7 linked regions of the Homo sapiens genome follow. The protein of the gene in region 1 purifies or fractionates together with the protein of each later gene. This does not show direct contact. Each region holds a gene or a part of one and is shown in the gene's direction. Other genes may lie near its edges.

Region 1 (3,500 bases):
CTCCTATGCTTTAGGAAGCCGGGACCTCTAACAAGATTCTATAGTTATTCAAACCTACTCCCTAGAAATTTATCACCCAAAGAGCAGCCCCAAAGATTAGCTGTTAATGCCATGAAGATGCCAAAGATAATCCCATGACAGTCTAATTACCTTATCTCGTATGTCAGCCTCATGGGTCTTCTAGGCCACAGTCGGCCTGGATTCCTTTATTCACCTCTCCTTCAGAGCTGAAAACTGACTGTAGCACATCTGTAATAGTCTTTCTTTTGAATCACGTAGTTCTAACAGTTTCAAACAAGGCTACTCATTTGCTGCTCTCCAGGGAATTTTACAATAGCGGAAAGTTCAGATCTCCCAAATTTCTGACCTGCTATTGACTTACACATTTCCATAACCTTTATTACTGGAGTACCCTCCTTCTGAGAGTGGCTTCTAATAGTCTTGTTAATTAGAACCAAAATACATCAGAGGCCTTCTAGATATCCAACCAGAGTGCAGTGAAAGTGTTCAGTCACTGTATAAGCACAGAAAAAAAGAATGACAAGGTTCACTTTTGATGATACGGGGTGTTATTAATAAGACATGTTTCCTTTTTGGTACTAGGGTGCTCCTGGTGCTGTAGGTGCCCCTGGTCCTGCTGGAGCCACAGGTGACCGGGTAAGCATGCATTTTCACTAAGCCAACAGCAATATCTAAAATTTCCCGCCTTCCCTAGTCCCAAAGAGCCCCAGCAATTCATTTTTATGGCTTGGTATAAAGCCTACTTATTTAAAAACCTAGCTATTGTGATAGAGCAGCAGGAAACAAATGCTGTGTGTTTAAAATTACTTTTCCCTTCCTATAGATTTGCCAGCTATCTGATCTATACTCTAATCCCTAGCATTTGTTTTAAAGTCTCTCCATGTTGCGCATTAACAATATCCTAATGCACTGAGGCTTCTCAAAGCCTTCAATTATTACCAAAAAATCAATAAAATACATAGTGTGCCCATTTCACATTGAACTCTCCACTTAAAATAGATCTTATTTATTGTATTGCAAAGATTGCCACAAATAGATCAGCCCCGTGTCCATCTAAAAATTAAAATGTCCTCCTCCTGGTATTGTAGGCACTGATTTATAGTGTTTTCTCAAGTGTATAACCCATACTACTTAACCCCCAAAATGAATATAGCATTAAGTAAAAATCCACTTCATTTTACTCTGTGAGATGTGCGTCAGTTATCTCTTCCAAGGCAACTACAGACTCTGTCTGTCCACCACTGTTCTCTCTCCCTCCCAGTTCTTTGAGCATCTATGTCAGGCACATTAACAGATTCATCTTTGGTCCCATTATAGGGCGAAGCTGGGGCTGCTGGTCCTGCTGGTCCTGCTGGTCCTCGGGGAAGCCCTGTAAGTAAGAACCTGGGTCATTTTGTATACTCACACCTCACAATGTTTAGACATTGATGAACCTAGGATTGATAACACATTTTTAAATCCCTTCTCCCACCTAGGGTGAACGTGGTGAGGTCGGTCCTGCTGGCCCCAATGGATTTGCTGGTCCTGCTGTGAGTATCACATAATGAAGATTAATCTGAAAACATCCTAAGTTGGGGAGTAGAGTGGGTCGGAATACCAGAGCTGTAACTGTTTATTTCCAACAGGGTGCTGCTGGTCAACCTGGTGCTAAAGGAGAAAGAGGAGCCAAAGGGCCTAAGGGTGAAAACGGTGTTGTTGGTCCCACAGGCCCCGTTGGAGCTGCTGGCCCAGCTGTAAGTTGAATTCACTGGTGGTCCACACAGCAGCTACCCATTAGATCTTCCAATTAAATATATATCCGTCAAGTGCCTGCTATGCAACAGGGAATATACCAGATAGAAGATGGAAAATAACGGAAGGATTAACATTTGCACACTGCTTTACAAAGTATAAAAGTTTCATGAATATTGTTTTATTTTAATTCTCTGATAACCTCATAAGGGTGGTAATATTGAAGAACATTCTGACACAGATAGTCATTTTTTATTTCTATATTTTCTTCTAAGAGATGCGGGAATGATCCACTTGAAGAAAAGAGTAGCATTTACAAGGGTTTGTTTGTGATTTGACTCCATCTTTTTGTTTGCATTTAGGGTCCAAATGGTCCCCCCGGTCCTGCTGGAAGTCGTGGTGATGGAGGCCCCCCTGTGAGTATTTACAATGGACTCTCGCCGCTTTTCTTTTTTCAGAATCTATTAAGGACACTTGAAAGTTTTGAAATTTTTGGTAAATTTGGACTACCATGAGGAAACTTTTGAGATTCAAGTTCATTCTATTCAGAGCAATTCCGATATTGATGTTAACTTGAACTCAGCTGGAACTCAGTGTATGTTGCTATCAGCTCACTTGAGGTAATAACCAAGGTGGGCCCTAGGCAGTTTAATTGTAAAGTCGGAAAAAATATTCCTTTTGGCGTTTATTAATATGCCCCTTCTTCTGCCTGACCATGTCCTTCTCCTTTGCAGGCAATGCTATCACAACAATTCTCTAGAGACCCAGAGCTCCCCAAAAATGAACTTTACTGACTTCTTCTCTCACTGGACAGTGCTGAATTATCTAGGTCATTTGTTATTCTTTTGTCCATGAACACCATTACCTATTAAGTGTCCATTTCCTTACCACTCAGCCAGGTGGTAAAGATAGTTATTAATGTATACACATTAATGTGTAATAATGACATAGTGTCTTATCTTCATACCTTTACAACCATAAGATAATATGTCAGCATTTCAGAAAGGACCATCCAAACCTTAACGCAAAATATGGGCATTGCAACTGGTAATATGCTGGTAAGGAAGATGTGTGGAGAAGGAGGGCCTTCAGGGTCCTGGCTAAATAATGCCCTATATGAAGCTGCCTACCTCCTACTCCTTGGTCTATTCCTGGTCACATGTACTGATTTTCCAAAACAAAGAAATTCCCATCTTACCCAAATTCTTGGAGTTGATGTTGACTGTGGAATTCTAATGTGCTTGGCTCTTAGGGTATGACTGGTTTCCCTGGTGCTGCTGGACGGACTGGTCCCCCAGGACCCTCTGTAAGTAAATCACTGTAAACGTGTCTTCATTTACTCTAGCCAAAAGGCCTGGCTTCTGATAGGAAACTGGTAAGAAACTCTTCATGAAAACACATCACTAATATTCGCTATTACTCTCCTGGTCTGAAGTCAGCTTTTCTGAACCATTAAGGTATTTCATCACAAGTTATATTTTATAATATCAGTTTAAGAGGCTTTTATTCATGTGAACACCAGTCCCCTTTCAGGGGCATGGTCTTTTTGAAAAAAAAAAAACAAAAAAACGAACAGTTTTAGCCACATATCAGATATTTCTATATCTAATTATCCTTTATGGCTAACATTCTGCCTCCATTGTTAAGGTATAATTGTTCCTGAATTTAAAGGTGGTTTGGCCTCTAATTTAATTCTGATTCAGACTCTCCTGTCAGGACTCAAGAAAATTTAATTAATTACCAAGGAT
Region 2 (3,500 bases), on another chromosome or scaffold:
ACCAACACCTCACGACACCCACACCTCCCGACACCAACACCTCCCGACACCAACACCTTCCGACACCCCCACCTCCCGACACCGCCACCTCCCGATACCCGCATCTCCCGACACCACCATCTCTGGCATTAAGTTCCTGGTGCATTTTGGAGGGGACGCACCCAACCAGAGCAGAGACCTGTGAGTGTCCATCACTCGCACATTGTCATACACTAGTTGCCATGTCCATGGATGACTTCTGCCGCCCTCACCCTCTGGGCATCAGTCATCCTGCCGTGACTCCGAACCTTCCCTCCTTGCCTGTCTTCTTACTGATTTGTTTCTGTCCGTGTGCATGAGGCTTCTGTCTTATTCCCGGGTTATCATTCATTATCATTTATCCCAGTGCTCAAATCGTCCCACATGGACCCTCAGGAGTCCCTCCGAACAATCCCTGTGTCCTTGTAATGCACCTGCTGTCCTCTGAACCTGCTCTTACTGTGGGGCACATGGTACCGCAGGCTCGGCCTCTGAGCCCGCGCTTACTGTGGGGCGCGCGGTACCGCAGGCTCGGCCTCTGAGCCCACTCTTACTGTTGGACATGTGATGTCGCAGGCTCGTCCCATGCTCTCCCTGCCCCAGCCCTCAGATGCTCCATTTCTTGGAGGAGACCTGGCGCCTTTGAGTGGAGGGTGACTTAGGCACCGGATGTGTTCACCACTGCCAGGGAGCAGCATTCCTGGGCACCGTTAACAGTTAGGAAGCAGACACGCATCTCTGCACCACACATGGACACACACACTCTTCTATTCTGTGTCTGTATATCAAATCCACAAGTGCAGCGGGGCATGCCGGCACACACCTGAGGTCCCAGCCACTCGGGAGGCTGAGGCAGGGGGATTGCTTGAGTCTGGGAGTTCAGGGCCACAGTGAACGTGAACTATGCATTCGTGAACTATCCATTGCAGCCTGGGCAACAGAGCAAGACCCTTTTTCTAAAAAAATAAAAACTTCCAGGAGTCCACTTTGCAGCTTCTCTTCCAGTCCAGCGCTGCTGGGCCCCCCAGCTGTCTCCCTTGCTGTCCTTTAACTCCCGTCTCCGACCGCCAGCCGTCACTCCTGGGTGACACACTGTCGAGATGGAGAGCTGCTGTTTGAAGGCCCGTGGTCCTTGGAAAGGACGATGTGCAGGTCCCGGGAGGCCTCCCCCTCATGCTGCAGTCACTCGGCAGACAATTGCCAGGCCCACGCTGGTGCTGGGGTACAAACGGGAAGGCGGGGGCTCTGCCGGCCACAGGACTCTCAGCTCCCTCATCACCACCCACACCCACGGGCTGGCCTCCCAAAATTTCCCCCATCTGCCTCTGGCCCCCCAACCGGATCATTCTTTCCACCCTTGCCTCCCTGGGGTCCCCGTGAGCTCCCGATCATTCTTTCCACCCCTACTGCCCTGGGGTCGGGGTGAGCTCCCAATCATTCTTTCCACCCTGACCGCCCTGGGGTCGGCGTGAGCTCCCGATCGTTCTTTCTACCCCTACTGCTCTGGGGTCCGTGTGAGCTCCGGATCATTCTTTCCACCCTGACTCCCCTGGGGTCGGAGTGAGCTCCCGATCATTCTTTCCACTCTGACCGCCCTGGGGTTGAGGTGAACCAGTCTTTGCATTGAAGCTGCAAGCCTGAGGCACGGTGGCCCTGGCGTCTCCCGAGCCATGAGGTAGGAACCCCAGAGGGTTTCAGTCCGGGATGCTGCCGCCCCCACTTCTCTTGAGGCTGTCGGGCAGGGGCCAGGTGGGAGGGTGTGGCTGCCGGGCAGCGGGGTGAACTGTGTCCTGCCAGGGGTTTTGTGGGTGGAGAAGGGACAGCAGGGCTCCAGTGAGAAGCTCTGGGAGTAGGAATTGGGTCTCTCTGGAGGGACACACTTGAAAGTGGTTGAGCCGTGGGGCTGCGTGCTGAGATCTCAGCTCTGAGCGGGAGGCTCTGCCTGGGGGTGGTTCTTCAGGAAAAGCAAAGCAGGACCTCCCTCTCCACGTGGGGCCTCCCTCTCCGCCCAGGGCCCAGCGTGCTCAGCTCTCCTGCTGTTTTTGTCTTTGATGGGAGGCACTGCCTCTAACGCTGGTTTCCTTGTGCAGTGGCCGGGCCACCCTTCCCGCCACCCTCCTCCCTTCACACATGAGGTTGGTGACGGCGCCCTGGAAGCCCACGATGTCCGGGGGTTGGGCTGGATTTAGCTTTAACCTCTCTGGGGCAGGAGATCCTGCTCTGAGGATGCTGGGGGGTTTCCTGGTGGGGTTAGAGGCGGGACGTGAGAAACGTGGCAGGTGGTGGCCAGGCTGTGGGGGAGCCAGGGTATTTCTTGATGGGGTTAGATGGGGGATGTAAGAATTGCAGCGGGTGGTGGCCAGGCTGCAGCTGCTCGCTGAGGGCCCCCTTGTAGCTTTCCAGGCAGAGGGGAAGCCCACCCCTTCCCTCACACGCTGTGTGCAGGCTGTGGGCCCATCAGTCCTGTCAAAGCCACCCTGGTTCTGTCCCCATAGGAGGGCTCCCCGAGGACTTTCTGAACTCCCTGGAGAAGATGGAGGACGGCAAGTTGAAGGTCACCCTCAAGTACCCCCATTACTTCCCCCTCCTGAAGAAATGCCACGTGCCTGAGACCAGGAGGAAAGTGGAGGAGGCCTTCAACTGCCGGTGCAAGGAGGTGAGAAGGCACGGCCAGGGGGCCCCAGAACAGTGGGTCTGGAGCTTGTGGGGCCCGTCTGCTCCATGTGTGTGAGGCACCTCCAGGCTTTGCACTTGGATGGCCTCCCAATCTCCCTGGCCAGGCCCAGTGGCCAGCAGAGGCCTCCCTGTGGGGCTCTGCCGTGCCCTGGAGGTGTCTGTGCTGGGCTCCACCCAGACCCTGGGGCCACAGCTCAGGGCCCAGTTCATCCTTCCCAAGCTGAGCCTCCTGCTGCTGCTCTGAGCATCTGGCCGCGCACACGTCTCGTCCCTCCCTTATCTGGAGCCGCCCCTCAGGTGTGTCAGCCCAGATCATTCCTTTTGTCTTAAATGATGGTGCCCGGACCTGAGCCTGGGTCCACAGGTGGGTTGTGACTGGGCTATCTCGCTGTGACTGGCGTCAGACGGCCGTTCCCACAGGGACACATGTAACTGTCCACGGCGCCATGGTGTGGTCGGTCAGGTGGTCTCTGCACGTCTCCCATTCGCCATCTGGAACAGGCAGAGGCTCTAGGAGTGGGCCTCTTGGTCCCCTGACGACACCAAGTTGGTGCTTGTGCGGCTGGCAAAAGGGGGATACACGCTGATCACTGCAAAGGGATGGGCGGGCACTGATCACTGCAAGGGGACGGGCGGGTGCCCATCACTGCGGGGGGACGGGCGGGTGCCCATCACTGCGGGGGGACGGGCGGGTGCCCATCACTGCGGGGGGACGGGCGGGTGCCCATCACTGCGGGGGGACGGGCGGGTGCCCATCACTGCGGGGGGATGGGCGGGTGCCCATCACTGCGGGGGGTGGGGGACGG
Region 3 (2,679 bases), on another chromosome or scaffold:
GGGATGAGTGTCTTTTCACACAGGATTGATGGTCCCATTTGTTATTCCTTTCCACTGAGCCAGAACCTGCCCCAGGCAATGTGCTTCTCCTGGTGTGGTTCATCTCCCACTGGGCAGAACACAGGGTCCAGGGATGGCCCCTGACCAGGGCGGGACAGTGCTTTGGGAAAACCTTTGGTATGTGACCACATGCACTCCTGTGTGTGCTCAGCCCGAGATGTCCTGGAGTCAAAGTCCACTGGAGAGGATCCAACCCATCTTCATGTCCCCCCAGGACCTCAGCAGTCCCCTGAGGTCAAGAAGAGCTTGTGGTGGGAGGAGCAGAGGGAGTGACCAGCCCCAGGGAGAATGGGGCAAGCAGCGGGGCTCTCCCCAGCCTCCTGTCCCCTGCCCCGTTTTCTCAGGAGTCTCGAGACATTGTCTGGGATTGCGTGATGGTCATGCGGCCTTTGGATGGGGGCTCAGGGTGGAGGAGGGCAGGTTGGTTGGGACGGGTTCTAAATCCTTCTCCTGCCCCTGTTTACAGAAAGCTCTGGAGGCCCGGACTCCCCGGACACAGAGCCCGGCTCCTCAGCTGGTCAGTAGCAGGGCCCTCAGCTGGAGGGGATTACAGGGGAATCTGTGCTGCGGATGCTGTTCCGGGTCCAGCCCTCTGCCCTGGGCTTGGAGTCAAGGTCTAGGGAGGCCACGGGAAGGCACCGACACCCACCAAGCTCTGGGAGGTCGCTAATGCTCACAGAGACCATAGCAGCAATGGTACAGTGATTGCAACCTTGTTCCATGCCAGGAACTGTGGAAAGCACTTAATGCAAGCACCACTTAATGGGGGAGGTACTAGTCTGATCCTCTAACTCCTCCTCCTCTCTAATATGCAAAACATAAATTAAAGTTTCGTGCTTAACGGCACAAGGCCATGAAGGGGCAGGGGCCACCCACCCGGGCAGCCCCACCCCAGACTTCCGGGCTCTCCCGAGCTCCACGCTGCCCCCTTGTGGGCGTGGCCTCACCATTCACCCCGCTCTGCACCTGATGGAGGGACTTAGAACTCACCTTCCAACCTGGGACACCCGGAGAGGGACGGGGCTGCTCCTGTTGGCTCTGTGATCTCCGGGGGAGGCCTGAACGGTGGAGTAAGGTCCCTTAAGAGGAGGAGGGCTCCACAGGGAGGGGACGTAGCTGTGAACGGTGACCAGGATGAAGCCATGAGGCTTCCCTTCCATCTGGCTCTGCCCTGGACTCTGTGATGGGAGAGAAGCTGCCTCTGGCTCTGCCCCTGGACTCTGTGTGATGGGAGTGAAGCTGCCCCAAGTCCCTGGGTCTCAAGTTGTCCATCTCCGCCTGTGATCTGTGACCAGAAACTGCCAGGGGAGGACACGGGGTCATAAGCCATTCGCGGCCCCTTCCCCACCTGGGTTTCTATCCCCAGAGTACGTCCTTGGACCTAGACCCGGTGACTGCCTGTGAGGCTCGGGCTGTGAGCTCAGGCAGGTGGGACCAGGGGCTGAAGCCACATGGGGAGGTGGGAGGAGCGATGCCGTGCTCCATCCGGACCCCCTCAGAGGCTCCTGGGCTGCTGGGGCACAGCGGGACATGCTCCTGAGTCCCGCAGACCTGGTTCAAGTCCAGTGTCTGGTTTTTATTAGCCTTCTGTCTGCGGGAATATCTTGCCTCTGTTTCTCTCCCTCTCTTCTTCTCCTTCCTTCTCTCTTCTCTCACCTTCATGCAGTGACATATAAAGGTCACGAGGGCAGACCCTCCTGCAGCCAGATTGCTGGGTTCATGGTTCAAATCCCGGTGGTTCTGCCACCCCCTGGCTCTATGCCTGACGGTGACTCACCCAAACCTCCTGTGTCCCAAATTCCTCATGTGAAACAGAGGCAATAGAAGAGCTGTCCTGGTAGAATCGTTTAGGGCAGACTTGAGTTCAGGTACACACGGCGCTGACATCAGTGCTGATTAGAAAACCCCAAAGGAGGGATGCTCCTATTAATACTGAGGAAGTATTTTGTCCTCACAGGGACTGTGCCAGGCACTGAAGCCTCCGGATTTGATGCACCATGAATGAGGAGAAATGGCCTCCCGTCTTGTGAACTTCAATGGGGAGAAATAATTAGAATGAGCAATAGAAATGCACAGATGCCTATACATACATATACAAATAAAAAGATACGATTCGCAATGGAGAATTTCAGACCTATCATTTCAATTATATTAAATATGTTCACGTAATGTATTACATATATAAGGAACATAATTATATAATAAAAATATGTTAACATATCACCACATATCACTATAATTATATTATATGAAAGATTTATTTACAATATATAGTACAATAAATTTCAGGTGTTATTATAATTAATAAACAGGTACAAACATAAATATATATTATCTATTATTTATAGATTATAATTATAATAGAAAAATTTTATATTTAATTATATGTTTATATGTAATATACATTATACATTATATATTATAGTGAATATATGCAACATATATTATAAGTATAAATCATATACAATTAACATTATATACATTAAATTATGATGTATATGTCAAGATTACATAATTTAATATATATTTGTTATATATTATACGTTTGCATAATACATGATACATATAACTATAAATAATATAAAAACTGTAATATTGCACATATATAATACATATGTA
Region 4 (3,002 bases), 3.2 Mb from region 1:
AATGAAAAAAGTCTACCCTTAAACCCTCAGATCAGTCTTTCCAAAGAATTACTCTGTTTGCATTGTTGTGATTGACATTTGTGAAGTCCCAAGAAAAGATCTGTTTTCATGACAGTAGAAAATAGAAGTTTGCAAATTATTTCTTTACTCAAAGAGGATTAAAAGAGAACTCTAATTTTAATATTAAAGCTTTCTTTTCTTTCAGGGAATAAATTTACATGACTTTTTATATTATGGAGGTTTATTTTTAAATCATCACCTTTCTCATATTTTTTAGAGGTATTGTCTTATCTCTTCCATAATCTTGGATATTACAAAACCCTAAATAGGCAATCAATAAATGGTTAACTGGCTATGTGTTCATAAACATTTTAAACAGCAATTGGGTTTGTAAGGCTGTTTTGTTGTTTGCTTCTGAAGACCCCTTTTTTTAATCGTTCAAGGAACCTTCTCCAGATAAATTATCTAGTTGGTCTACTCTTAGTCAGAATTTATGCATGGGTGTATATATGTGTATATATAGATAAGTATACACATAAGTATATATGCATTAATTTTTATAAAATAGAGATGTAAAGTTTACTTACATTTCATAATATGGAAATATGGTTATGAGAAATGGAAAATGCTAGATGGAAAACCTCAAATACCTTTACAGGTTAAAAATATCTTTACTAAATTTTCCCATGAAAACATTTTGTGATAAAATGACAAGGGACTAAAATGAAGATCATTGATACAATAGAGTTACTTTCCTTGTTACAATGCAATTGTCTTATAAGTCATTATTCATTTTAAGGAAAATCAAAAAAATTAGATCTTACTAAAAATGTAGCATTTGATTTTAAGTAGCAAGATGCAATTTTGTGTTCCCTTTTTCTTTGTTACATTAACATAATATAGTAGATAGAGGGTTTATTGTATAGACATACACAAAAAAATAGTATTCTTAGGCCAAATTCACACATATCTCCTCACTAAGTAGTTCAATTAGATAATTTCTGGAAAAACATGTTTTTGACATTAATTGCTATCCAAAACTATATTTTAAAGCAGTCTTATTGGAGGTGTCCTTAACATGATGTAACTATAAATTTGATGCAGAAAGGTTTTACATGCTGTGGTTAAATAGCTTTAGAAGACATTTTTAAGTCACCACCAGCCTTTATTCTTAGAAAACAATTTATTCTAAATGATGATGCATATAGAAAACCAGTGTATTCTTTTATTTCTTTTAATACTGGTGGCAAAATAGGACGTGTCTGGAAAACCATAAGGCTACTTGGGATACTGTCCCATTAGCATTGCTGTTTCCATGACAAACCCTATTTTCAGATGGTTTGATTTGCCTATTTTTTTTTTAAACCAGCTATAAATTGGGGTCAATTTCCCCCCTCACAGTGTACTTAATTTAGCTTTTGGAGTAAATATATAAGTAGTATGAAAGACTTCTGAAGCTCTTCTTTCTAAAAAAGCAGTTTTCCACTTAAGCTTTGTGGGGACAGAGAGTCATATTTTTAATTTCAGAGCCAGCCAGTGTCAAACACGTGCAAAAGAGCCGGGCCGGATTTTTTCAGCTTGTCCTATGGTAGTCACTTGTCAGCCTGAGTTTACTGGCCTGGTCCTTTTGTCTCCACTGTAAGTACTGAAGCCTTCTGGTGTAGTTGTATCACCTTAATGTCCAGCATTTAACTAGGAAAGGAGACTACAATGAAGAGTTGGTGGCCAATTAAGAAAAATAATAGACTACATCATAAATCATTTCAGGACTTGAGTGGCCGCAGATCACTGTCCCTGATAGCATGTTTCAACCTTGGTATACATTTTTTTTAAGATGCATATTTACTGTGTGTGCTTTTGCTTTCTAATCCATCTATTGACTATTGGCCACAATTTATATAATGCACATGCAATTAATTGAAACCTGTGTCATGGCATTGGATATCTCTGATTCATTTCTTATTATAATAGTCTGTGTAACTGGGGCCTGAGAGATTAGAAGCAAAATGTAGTCGTACGTATGTCTAGAGGTGGACGCTGGTGATATTGTCATTGAATACTTTGCAGAATACACTAATGTCAAAGGCTTGCAGGATTAATGTGTAGGAACCAACATAAGACATGGAATATATATAAGAATTATCTAGTTACATGACTAAAAAGGAATTGCAATACTATCTTAAATTGAAGGCTTTTATTTCAATGTCCTTACATTTAAAATGGGATCTTACAAGGGAAGTACCAAAAAAGTAAAGTTTATTTTGATGACTCTCAAGATATATATGTTTGTTTTGAATGTTGGCAGATGCCAATAGCCCTTAACATTTGAAAAATGGTACTTGAACATCAATTATGTCTCAGAGTTCCCTTAAACTTTTTGGGCTTAAATATTTTTATTCATTTTGGTCATACCTTTGACAATGGATATGTTAAACTTTAACAATTATAGTGACAAAACAGCTTGCTTAGAACCTGGAAATTAAAACACAATTTCTAGAGTAATTTTTCTAAGTTGTATCATGTTTTGTGGTGACAAATGTCTCTACTCCATTACAGAATCAAGTTGCTATTCAAATATAATACTTCCTCTGGGGATCTTTGTTTATAGGTTGGTTTGGGACCCTAATAACAGGTCAAACAAAAGGGTTTCTCAAAGAAATTTTTCTAATAATATATAAGTTCAAATACAATTTATAAGTACATGTACACAATGAACATATAATAAGTATTCTGTGGGTCATCGTCAGTTTTATGAGTCAAGCAGATCCTTAAATTGCTTGAAAGAATAAGATACAATTTTCCAAAAGAGATTAAGTAAACTATTTCATTGGTATTCTAAAGAGGTGTATTTTTGAATGATAAAATGTAAATAACACTGCATTTTCTTGAGGTATTATTAATACACTAGTTGAATGGCATATTTGTGTGACTAGTAATTCTAAAAGCAAAGTATTAAAATAGCAATGATTTGTACATTTTACACACACATTTTTTAAAAGATG
Region 5 (3,500 bases), on another chromosome or scaffold:
TGGCCTGGTACTGATGTACCCATTCACGATACCATCTCTTCCTATTTTATGAATTACAACTCCTCAGTGTCATTTGAGGAAAGACTAAATAATATTACTATGTGGCTAAACAATTCGAACCCACCAGTCACCTTTGCAACACTATATTGGGAAGAACCAGATGCAAGTGGCCACAAATACGGACCTGAAGATAAAGAAAACATGAGCAGAGTGTTGAAAAAAATAGATGATCTTATCGGTGACTTAGTCCAAAGACTCAAGATGTTAGGGCTATGGGAAAATCTTAATGTGATCATTACAAGTGATCATGGGATGACCCAGTGTTCTCAGGACAGACTGATAAACCTGGATTCCTGCATCGATCATTCATACTACACTCTTATAGATTTGAGCCCAGTTGCTGCAATACTTCCCAAAATAAGTAAGTAAACATTCAACTGAGGGATACTATTATTCGAATGGGGCAATTGATTGAGGGGGGTGGGTTGTATAAAAGAATGAAGCTCTAGCTTTTTGTAGTTTAGAACCATATACTCAGAGTGGGATTATATGTTTTTTTCCTCTTGTTTACAAGTTGAGAGCAGTTGGCCTATGGTTTAGTTATATGGCTTATGGTTTAGTTTCAAAGTGAGTATTTCTTTGCTTTTGATATATCTAATTATTTGCACTAGAAAAAGGAAATTTTTATCCTTAAACATCTTAGATTTTAGTGTGTGATATTTAGTGGTGAGGTACTTTCTTCTACTGATCATAGAAGTAGTAGTTAGTAGTAACATGTAATTAGTTTATGTTTACTTAGGAAGATACACCTGAAAAATGTCCCCTATCTGTAAAAGTCCACCATGGTAATCCACAAAGTGAAACAGATTTGTTAATGTTTGAGAAAGGTGTGTGTTTGTGTGTATCAGTCCCCAACACTCTCACATTATTATTGCTCTGTTTTTTTAAGAAGTGATTTAATAGATGACATTATCTATAATTTACTTCCAATTATTCTAGTTAGACATATTTTTTCCTTATCAATCATAACTTGTTTCCTTTGCTGTTTCTTTTTTTTTCTCAGATAGAACAGAGGTTTATAACAAACTGAAAAACTGTAGCCCTCATATGAATGTTTATCTCAAAGAAGACATTCCTAACAGATTTTATTACCAACATAATGATCGAATTCAGCCCATTATTTTGGTTGCCGATGAAGGCTGGACAATTGTGCTAAATGAATCATCACAAAAATGTAAGTATTTAGTTGAGATATTTCTGTTGTATCCTAGGAACAAATCATACCTTGTGATACTGTTGTGTTAAGAGGGTACTTCGATTTAAAGAAGTTCACACAGAATAATTAGTTCAATTTTCAACCAGATAATTCCCAGGTCTTCATTTAATAGCAATTTACAGTAATCACAATTTCACCTTTAAATTAGAAAGTAAATTTAAGAGTGAAGGCAAAGTCCTACTTTCTTTCCAAAACTGCAATTACTGTCAGTAATTTTCAAGATTCATTCTCTTGATTTATACAAAATAGAGAAGTAAAGAAACAGTAAAAGGGGAGAGATTAGCTAATCCTTGTTCTTTTGTGTGTTAAAAAAAATTTGTCTGAGTAACCCTAAGTCTTCCCCAGTAACAAAATCATTTACCTGAATGCTACAGCTATTTAGAACACTGGGCAAGAACCAGAAAGTAACCAAACAAATCCACCAAGTGAACAAAATAGATACATCAAAATCTCTCCTAAAAAATATATAGGGGAGAAAATGTATAGGGGTGAGTTACAGGCTTGCCTCAAACTGAAGCTTATTTATCCATATTTCATATTCAATTCAAATGCTTTTTTTAAAATCTAATTTTGTGGTCTATGGTAGGGGTCAGCAAACTTTTTTAGTAAAGGGCCAAATAGAAAATAGTTTAGGCTTTGTGGGCCAGCTGGTCTCTGTCTCAGCTACTCTACTCTGCCTTTATTGTGTAAAAGTAGCCATAGACAACCTGTAAAGAAATTGAAGTGGTGTGCTTCGGTGAAACTCTGTTTACAAAAAGGATGGAGGGCTAACCTTCGCTATGGGCTGTAGTTTACAGTTCCCTGATATATAGCAATTTAGAAGTATCAGGCAAGCATAGGACAGACTCAGAATCAATGAAGTTTGTATATTATTTACATCAATGTTATGTTGCATATTTGTTGTTGACAACCGAAAGTATAGAAAAGCATAGGAAAGAGAACAAAAACTATCCATAATCCCTCAGTATGGATTTATAGGCAAATGTTAATTGTGGACATTTCTCCCCATCCAATCTTTTTTCATATATATATTCTTTTCTAATATATATCTATATTATATATATTATATGTAATATAATTATATGTAATATATATAATATATATAATGTATATTATATATTATATATAATATATAATTACATATAATTATAATATATATTTTCTACATATATATGTAGAATATATTATATATTATATATAGAAAAATATATATTTTTTTCTAATATATGTGTGTGTGTTTTAATATTATTGAAATCTTTATATATTCTGCTTTTTGTCATATTGGTTATTTTTATGATGAAATATTTCAAACATACCACCAAAGAATAATATAACAAATATCAGTATACTCATCACCCAGTCACCCGTACTTAATATGAAAGTGGGAGCTTATTAAATACAACGGGTGTACGTTAAATGGCAACATTTGTTAAAATAAAGCTAAAAATTGGGAATTTATTATTGGAGTTGTATTAGGGACTATCATATGCTTTTCTTTAAGTCTAACTTTTACTGGGATAGAGTCACCAGATTAGACAACACATTCAACGCAAGATCCCTCCTGTAACAATTGAGATAGGTTAGGCTGCAGATTTTCTTTTTCTCCATTTGTTGGCCTTACTCACTTCTGTTCTTCCCAGTTACACAGAACCCTCAGCCTGACCACTGTCTTTATAACTGGTACTGCTTGCAGTGAGCTTTTGCAAACAGTGCTGAGATTGACAAGTGAAGTAATTGGTACTCGGGCTGAAAGATAAGTACATCAGGTTGACAAGTGGTGGTAAAGTCTGAGGGTATGACCAGTTGGGAAAAGGGGCATATGTGTGTGTTTGTGTGTGTATGTGAGAGAGAGAGAGAGAGAGGGAAATATGGAACATAGCTGAGTTGAAGAAATAGAAATTTTTATTTCTAGTCCCTTTCTGAAAGAATTGAATGTTTATATACTAGAAGCAAGTTATTTTGTCCTAAAAAGTCTGATCTTATTGACTGATGTTGTTTTGTTCTTTTTCAGTAGGTGACCATGGTTATGATAATTCTTTGCCTAGTATGCATCCATTTCTAGCTGCCCACGGACCTGCATTTCACAAAGGCTACAAGCATAGCACAATTAACATTGTGGATATTTATCCAATGATGTGCCACATCCTGGGATTAAAACCACATCCCAATAATGGGACCTTTGGTCATACTAAGTGCTTGTTAGTTGACCAGTGGTGCATTAATC
Region 6 (3,500 bases), on another chromosome or scaffold:
CTACTTGAATTAAAAAAAAATTTCTTTTGGCAGGTCAGCTTTCTCAAATACAAAAGCAATGACTCTGTTTTCCTTACATTCACTTGTATTTGCTTAATGGGCTTTAAAGGTGTGAATGAATCCAAGTCTTATTAATTTGGGGGCCTTTAATTCTTGATCAGCTCTATATTTCTATATTCTTTTTTTTTTTTTTTTTTTGGCGACAGAGTGTTTAACTCTTGTTGCCCAGGCTGGAGTGATCTCAGCTCACCGCAGTCTCCTTCTCCTGCCTCAGCCTGCCAAGTAGCTGGGATTACTGGCGCCTGCCACCACACCCGACTAATTTTTGTATTTTTAGTAGAGATGGGGTTTCACCATGTTGGCTAGGCTGGTCTTGAACTCCTGACCTCAGGTGATCTGCCTGCCTTGGCCTCCTACAGTGCTGGGATTATAGGTGTGAACCACCATGCCTGGCCTATATTCTATATTCTATATATTCTATATTCTTTTGTCTTTTTTGTTTCTGTAAGTATGTGGGCCCAGTAATATAAAACTTCTTTATGTAAATGGCACAGGTTCAAACTGAAGAGAATTGGCAGTAGTTTTAAGGATAGTAGAATGGAAGGGGTTTTTGATAGCACTTTGATACAGAGTACTATTGTAGCTAAGCAAAATTTAAGCGGTTATTAAAACCAATTCCTTTGATTTTTCCATAAAATGTAGCTGTATAAAAGAAGGTATTTACAATACTCTTTATTAAATTTTGTCCCTTCATTAAATTAAGATATAGAATTTTTTTTTTTTTTTTTTTGAGATCGAGTCTCACTCTGTCTCCCAGGCTGGAGTGCAGTGGCACGATCTCGCCTCACTGCAAGCTCCGCCTCCCAGGTTCACGCCATTCTCCTGCCCCAGCCTCCCGAGTAGCTGGGACTACAGGTTTGCACCACCATGCCTGGCTAATTTTTTGTATTTTTAGTAGAGATGGGGTTTCACTGTGTTAGCCAGGATGCTCTTGATCTCCTGATCTCATGATCCGCTTGCCTGGGCCTCGCAAAGTGCTAGGATTACAGGCGTGAGCCACCGCACCCAGCCACAGATATTGTTTTTAAGATAAGATACTATTTATTCCTGTGCTATTTGAGATCTTTTGTAGTGGCTTCAGAGCCATTAGGACTGTTCAGATGGAAATCTGTAGCACACACTCTTAAGATTTTTTACTTGTTTTCCATGTAATACATGTAGAATAGGAAGTTTTGCAAGCAGAGAAGTATTGTACTTCTAATAAGATGTTTTGCCTTACAGAATTCAATTCGTCATAATCTGTCCCTACACAGCAAGTTCATTCGTGTGCAGAATGAAGGAACTGGAAAAAGTTCTTGGTGGATGCTCAATCCAGAGGGTGGCAAGAGCGGGAAATCTCCTAGGAGAAGAGCTGCATCCATGGACAACAACAGTAAATTTGCTAAGAGCCGAAGCCGAGCTGCCAAGAAGAAAGCATCTCTCCAGTCTGGCCAGGAGGGTGCTGGGGACAGCCCTGGATCACAGTTTTCCAAATGGCCTGCAAGCCCTGGCTCTCACAGCAATGATGACTTTGATAACTGGAGTACATTTCGCCCTCGAACTAGCTCAAATGCTAGTACTATTAGTGGGAGACTCTCACCCATTATGACCGAACAGGATGATCTTGGAGAAGGGGATGTGCATTCTATGGTGTACCCGCCATCTGCCGCAAAGATGGCCTCTACTTTACCCAGTCTGTCTGAGATAAGCAATCCCGAAAACATGGAAAATCTTTTGGATAATCTCAACCTTCTCTCATCACCAACATCATTAACTGTTTCGACCCAGTCCTCACCTGGCACCATGATGCAGCAGACGCCGTGCTACTCGTTTGCGCCACCAAACACCAGTTTGAATTCACCCAGCCCAAACTACCAAAAATATACATATGGCCAATCCAGCATGAGCCCTTTGCCCCAGATGCCTATACAAACACTTCAGGACAATAAGTCGAGTTATGGAGGTATGAGTCAGTATAACTGTGCGCCTGGACTCTTGAAGGAGTTGCTGACTTCTGACTCTCCTCCCCATAATGACATTATGACACCAGTTGATCCTGGGGTAGCCCAGCCCAACAGCCGGGTTCTGGGCCAGAACGTCATGATGGGCCCTAATTCGGTCATGTCAACCTATGGCAGCCAGGCATCTCATAACAAAATGATGAATCCCAGCTCCCATACCCACCCTGGACATGCTCAGCAGACATCTGCAGTTAACGGGCGTCCCCTGCCCCACACGGTAAGCACCATGCCCCACACCTCGGGTATGAACCGCCTGACCCAAGTGAAGACACCTGTACAAGTGCCTCTGCCCCACCCCATGCAGATGAGTGCCCTGGGGGGCTACTCCTCCGTGAGCAGCTGCAATGGCTATGGCAGAATGGGCCTTCTCCACCAGGAGAAGCTCCCAAGTGACTTGGATGGCATGTTCATTGAGCGCTTAGACTGTGACATGGAATCCATCATTCGGAATGACCTCATGGATGGAGATACATTGGATTTTAACTTTGACAATGTGTTGCCCAACCAAAGCTTCCCACACAGTGTCAAGACAACGACACATAGCTGGGTGTCAGGCTGAGGGTTAGTGAGCAGGTAAGTTCACCCCAATATCAAAAGACCTTTTGAAAAATAGAACTTAAAAGCGAGGAACACAGTAACTTGCCATGGTTAGCACATCTTTGATGTCAACTGACTGTCCCTTGCAGAGAGGGATCTTTTATCATTCATTCTCTGTCCTTTTTGCAGCTTACAGTTTTCCTTCTGAGCTTACACAGAAGGAAGCTTCCTTTAACTGCTTTAAAGATTTCTTTTTGACAGTTCGATGGCTGCATCTTTTTAGTAGCTCTTCAATAAATGAATACATTTGATATAAATCAAATGCTGAAGGGTTTTTTGTAAAGTAGAATTTTCCCCATTGAATGATTTTAGAGCTGTTTGAGAAAGCTCTAGCTTTTTGCCCCTAAGTATGTCTGTCACTCTTAACATGTTAAGTTGAATTGATTTTAATTTGGCTATATTTTCATTGTGTGTGTATGTGTGTGTGCGTATGTATGTGTTTTTTCCTAGGTTACACTTAAAAGTACTTCAGATTGTCTGACAGCAGGAACTGAGAGAAGCAGTCCAAAGATGTCTTTCACCAACTCCCTTTTAGTTTTCTTGGTTAAAAAAAAAAACAAAAAAAAAAACCCTCCTTTTTTCCTTTCGTCAGACTTGGCAGCAAAGACATTTTTCCTGTACAGGATGTTTGCCCAATGTGTGCAGGTTATGTGCTGCTGTAGATAAGGACTGTGCCATTGGAAATTTCATTACAATGAAGTGCCAAACTCACTACACCATATAATTGCAGAAAAGATTTTCAGATCCTGGTGTGCTTTCAAGTTTTGTATATAAGCAGTAGATACAGATTGTATTTGTGTGTGTTTTTGGTTTTTCTAAATATCCAATTGGTCCAAGGAAAGT
Region 7 (3,500 bases), on another chromosome or scaffold:
CTTTCTTTCCCTGTTGTCCCTCTGTTTTCCTCTCAGTCAGATATTGCTTCTCCCCAACCCCTACCCTTAGTTTCTTTGAGTCAGTGGTAGCTGTGCTCTTGGCTGAGCTCTGCTCACACACCTCACTCCCCACCCCCAGTTTAAAAGCTCCCTGGCCCTGCAAGTGCCAAGTGAACAAGTCAGGCAGGCAGGGCCACTCCTATCAGGGGGAGTGGAGAGTGAGTACCCGTGAGCACCTTCCTCATGATCATTTTAATCACTGAGTGAAATGTCACCTTGGCCCACTGGCAGTATCCACATGTTGCCACCAAAGAATCCTGGAGTATCCACATGTTGCCACCAAGAATCCTGGAGTGTGGTGGTAAACAGCCATTAGGGTTAGACCAGCCAGACTTGGAAAAATGTATGCGCTTCTTTATTGATTTATTTATTCCTTCATTTGGTCAATAGTGATTGAGCACCTACTGTATGCTAGGTGTCATTCTAAGTCTTGGGATACTGTGGTGAACGAGACTGACCAAGGCGCTGCTTTCATGGAGCTTACATTCTAATGGAGGAGCTGAATACCAAAAATGTGAACAGATAAGTTAAGCAATTTCAGATACTGATAAAGGCAAAAATAAAGAAACCAGGCAATGTGGTAGTTGGGGGCAGGAGTAGCAAGGGCGATCAGGGAAGGTCTCTTCAAGGAGGTGACATTTGAGAGCCCTGAAAAGTCTGTGGGGTTCTTCAGAGTTTCATGTCGTCTTCTCTTATTTTACATTTTTGGTTGTGATTATAGAGTTTCCATGGAAATCAAGGCAATGAATAGTGAAAGATCATGAAAGAAAATTAGTTTTGAGGTCAGATAGCTTCTAGGCTGGAAGACCGGGAAATTGCTAGTGTTAGACTCCAGGGATTGGCTAGTTCCACAAACTAATCTAATCTAACAGTCCTAAGGAAGGATTGAAAGGAGCTGACTGTGATGCCCAGAAACAGACTTTGTGTCTTAGGATCATACCACATTTCTTCCGCTCTCTGAGACTCAAAATTATTCTCCAGGCAAGATAATCATTGCTTCTAATGATCTGTAAATAAAACAATTAGCTTTGAGTTAATTAAGTAAGAGATAGGGGCTGACATACCCTGTTTTTTTTTGTTGTTGTTGCTTTGGGGTTTGTGTGGTCCTTCTGTTTCAGTTTTATTTTATTTTTTATTTAACTTATTTTTTTGAGGGGGAGGGACAGAGTCTTGCTCTGTTGCCCAGAGTAATCTGTGCTGGGATTACAGGTGTGAGCCACTGTGCCTGGCCTTTTCCAGTTTTATAAATCAAGAACCTCATTTTCTTTTTTTCTGAGACAAGGTTAGTCTCTGTGGCCCATGCTGGAGTGCAGTGGCATGCTCTTGGCTCACTGCATCCTCTGCCTCCTAGGCTGAAGCCATCCTCCACCTCAGCCTCCCAAAAAGCTGGGACTACAGGCATGTGCCACCACACCTGACTCATTTGTGCATTTTTTGTAGAGATGGGGTTTCACCATGTTGCCCGGGGTTGATCTCGAATTGAAGAGCTGAAACAATCTGCCTGCCTCAGCCTCTCAAAGTGTTGGAATTATAGGCATGAGCCACTGTGCCTGGCCAAGAACCTCATTTTCTTTATCTGCAAACTTAGGTGTTGGATTAGATATATTTTTGGGTTCTTTCCATTGCTCACATGCAATAAAGTATCCGAATCCATTTTTGAGAGTGCCCTTCACATTCAGTACTTAGTCCATCGTTTAGGCACCTGTGAGGCATGATCTCTGCCCTCAAGAAAAACAGACCATGGGGCAATCAAAATCTAGGGGCAGGGAAGGGAGAGATCTATGTGAGCAGTGGTAGTGGAGAGGTGTCCAAAGGAAGGGGTTCTTGAGTTGGCTCTTGAAGGAGGAAATGGGAAAAAGAAGGGAGAACATTCCAGGTAAGAAAATGAGCTATGAAAAGGGGTCAGAGTCAGCGTCCCCTTGCTACCAGCTGAACATGCGTAGTGTGAAGATGAGACTGAGCCCGTGATATGGGGGAAATGTACCACACGAATTAGTAATATTATCTAGACTTATTCTTCACAATGTTGGGTGAACAGAGTACTTTCCAATGAATATGCATAGTGTGAAGATGAGACTGAGCTCATGATATGGGGGAAATATACCACACAAATTAGTAATATTATCTTGACTTATTCTTCATAACGTTGGGTGAACAGAGTACTTTCCAAAAACACCCGAGAACTCTTCCAGTTTTAGACAAGATAGAGTAGACACACTTGTGTTTATTTTTCCTGCTAAGGATGTTATTTATAATACAAGCATAAGAAGACCTGAAAAGTGAAGAGAAAAAGACAGACTGGCTAGGAACCTAAGGACCTAAGGAACAACACAACAGACACAACTGAAAATCATTTGTCATGCCAAGAATCAGGAATACCTAAACCTGAGTGAGGAAAGGCCATCAGCAGATCTCAACAGCAAGGTGACTCAGATAGTGGAATTATAGGGCAAGGATTTGAAAACAGCTATCATAAAAATGCTTCATAAAATTACAGATACACATGAAACAAATGAAAAATAGTCTCAGCAAGAACTGGAAAGTTTCAGCAAAAACCTAGAAGATAGAAGAATCAAATGAAAATTTTAGAACTATACAATAGCCAATAAAAAAGTCACTGAATGGGCTCATCAGCAGAATAGAGATGACAGGAGAAAGAATCAGTGAACTTGAAGGTAGAACAATAGAAATTACCTGACAAAGAGCAGACTTAAAAGAAAAAGTAATGAACAAAATGAACAGAGTTTCTGGGACCTGTGGGACTATAACAAAAGATGTGACATTCACATCATTGTAGTAACAGGAGATGAGTGTGGGGTTGAAAAAGTGTTTGAAGAAGTAATGGCTGCATTTTTGTCATATTTGGCAAAAGACATAAACCTACATTTTCAGTGAACCCCAAGAGGATAAACTCAAATTCATGCCAAGACATACCATAGTCAAACTTATGAAAATTAAAGTCTTGAAAGCAGTGAAAGGAAAGCAGCACCTTACCTATAGGGTAAAAACAATATGAGTGACAGCAGATTTCTCAGGAGAAACCATGAAGGCCAGAAGGAGGTGGTACATTTTCCAAGTGTTGAAACAACTGTCGACTCATAATTCTATAAGACATTCACAGATGAAGGAAAACTAAGAGAATTTGTCATAATAGAACTGCTCTAAAAGAATGGCCAAAGGAAGTTCTCTTATCAGAAAGGAAATGGTAAAAGGAGACCTGGAACATCAGGAAGGAAGAAAGAACAATGGGAAGAGTAAAACTCTGAGTGAGTGTAGTGGGCTTTTCTTCCTCTGTTGACTTTTGAAGAATTATGTTTGACAGTTGAGGCAAAACGATAACATTCTCTGATGTGTTAAAAAAAATAGCTGAAAAAAGAAAAGAAAGAACAGTACCTGAGAAGGAAAATAAAATCTCACTGATACAATCTTTGGCACCTCCT

Evidence for each region.
Region 2: the proteins of COL1A2 (region 1) and THOP1 fractionate together in Homo sapiens (co-fractionation; one large-scale study listed by BioGRID). This does not show direct contact.
Region 3: the proteins of COL1A2 (region 1) and LAIR2 purify together in Homo sapiens (co-immunoprecipitation; one large-scale study listed by IntAct). This does not show direct contact.
Region 4: the proteins of COL1A2 (region 1) and FZD1 fractionate together in Homo sapiens (co-fractionation; one large-scale study listed by BioGRID). This does not show direct contact.
Region 5: the proteins of COL1A2 (region 1) and ENPP4 fractionate together in Homo sapiens (co-fractionation; one large-scale study listed by BioGRID). This does not show direct contact.
Region 6: the proteins of COL1A2 (region 1) and FOXO1 purify together in Homo sapiens (affinity purification with mass spectrometry, with the first as the bait; one large-scale study listed by BioGRID). This does not show direct contact.
Region 7: the proteins of COL1A2 (region 1) and NTPCR purify together in Homo sapiens (affinity purification with mass spectrometry, with the first as the bait; one large-scale study listed by BioGRID). This does not show direct contact.

Annotation. Positions count from the first base shown.
Region 1 is NC_000007.14:94,418,895-94,422,394, forward strand, and holds part of COL1A2 (collagen alpha-2(I) chain precursor), read left to right. Parts: intron 1-603; coding exon 604-657; intron 658-1,338; coding exon 1,339-1,392; intron 1,393-1,496; coding exon 1,497-1,550; intron 1,551-1,646; coding exon 1,647-1,754; intron 1,755-2,114; coding exon 2,115-2,168; intron 2,169-3,004; coding exon 3,005-3,058; intron 3,059-3,500. UniProt on the Homo sapiens protein: Type I collagen is a member of group I collagen (fibrillar forming collagen).
Region 2 is NC_000019.10:2,802,503-2,806,002, forward strand, and holds part of THOP1 (thimet oligopeptidase), read left to right. Parts: exon of another isoform or gene 1-1,693; intron 1,694-2,108; exon of another isoform or gene 2,109-2,153; intron 2,154-2,513; coding exon 2,514-2,674; intron 2,675-3,500. UniProt on the Homo sapiens protein: Involved in the metabolism of neuropeptides under 20 amino acid residues long. Involved in cytoplasmic peptide degradation. Able to degrade the amyloid-beta precursor protein and generate amyloidogenic fragments.
Region 3 is NC_000019.10:54,508,509-54,511,187, forward strand, and holds the end of LAIR2 (leukocyte-associated immunoglobulin-like receptor 2 isoform a precursor), read left to right. Parts: intron 1-526; coding exon 527-577; intron 578-2,017; coding exon 2,018-2,061; 3' UTR 2,062-2,179; downstream 2,180-2,679.
Region 4 is NC_000007.14:91,268,825-91,271,826, forward strand, and holds the end of FZD1 (frizzled-1), read left to right. Parts: 3' UTR 1-2,502; downstream 2,503-3,002. UniProt on the Homo sapiens protein: Receptor for Wnt proteins. Activated by WNT3A, WNT3, WNT1 and to a lesser extent WNT2, but apparently not by WNT4, WNT5A, WNT5B, WNT6, WNT7A or WNT7B. Contradictory results showing activation by WNT7B have been described for mouse.
Region 5 is NC_000006.12:46,139,989-46,143,488, forward strand, and holds part of ENPP4 (bis(5'-adenosyl)-triphosphatase ENPP4 precursor), read left to right. Parts: coding exon 1-421; intron 422-1,063; coding exon 1,064-1,234; intron 1,235-3,287; coding exon 3,288-3,500. UniProt on the Homo sapiens protein: Hydrolyzes extracellular Ap3A into AMP and ADP, and Ap4A into AMP and ATP. Ap3A and Ap4A are diadenosine polyphosphates thought to induce proliferation of vascular smooth muscle cells.
Region 6 is NC_000013.11:40,558,642-40,562,141, reverse strand, and holds part of FOXO1 (forkhead box protein O1), read left to right. Parts: intron 1-1,281; coding exon 1,282-2,619; 3' UTR 2,620-2,633; intron 2,634-3,107; 3' UTR 3,108-3,500. UniProt on the Homo sapiens protein: Transcription factor that is the main target of insulin signaling and regulates metabolic homeostasis in response to oxidative stress.
Region 7 is NC_000001.11:232,971,111-232,974,610, forward strand, and holds part of NTPCR (cancer-related nucleoside-triphosphatase), read left to right. Parts: intron 1-3,500. UniProt on the Homo sapiens protein: Has nucleotide phosphatase activity towards ATP, GTP, CTP, TTP and UTP. Hydrolyzes nucleoside diphosphates with lower efficiency.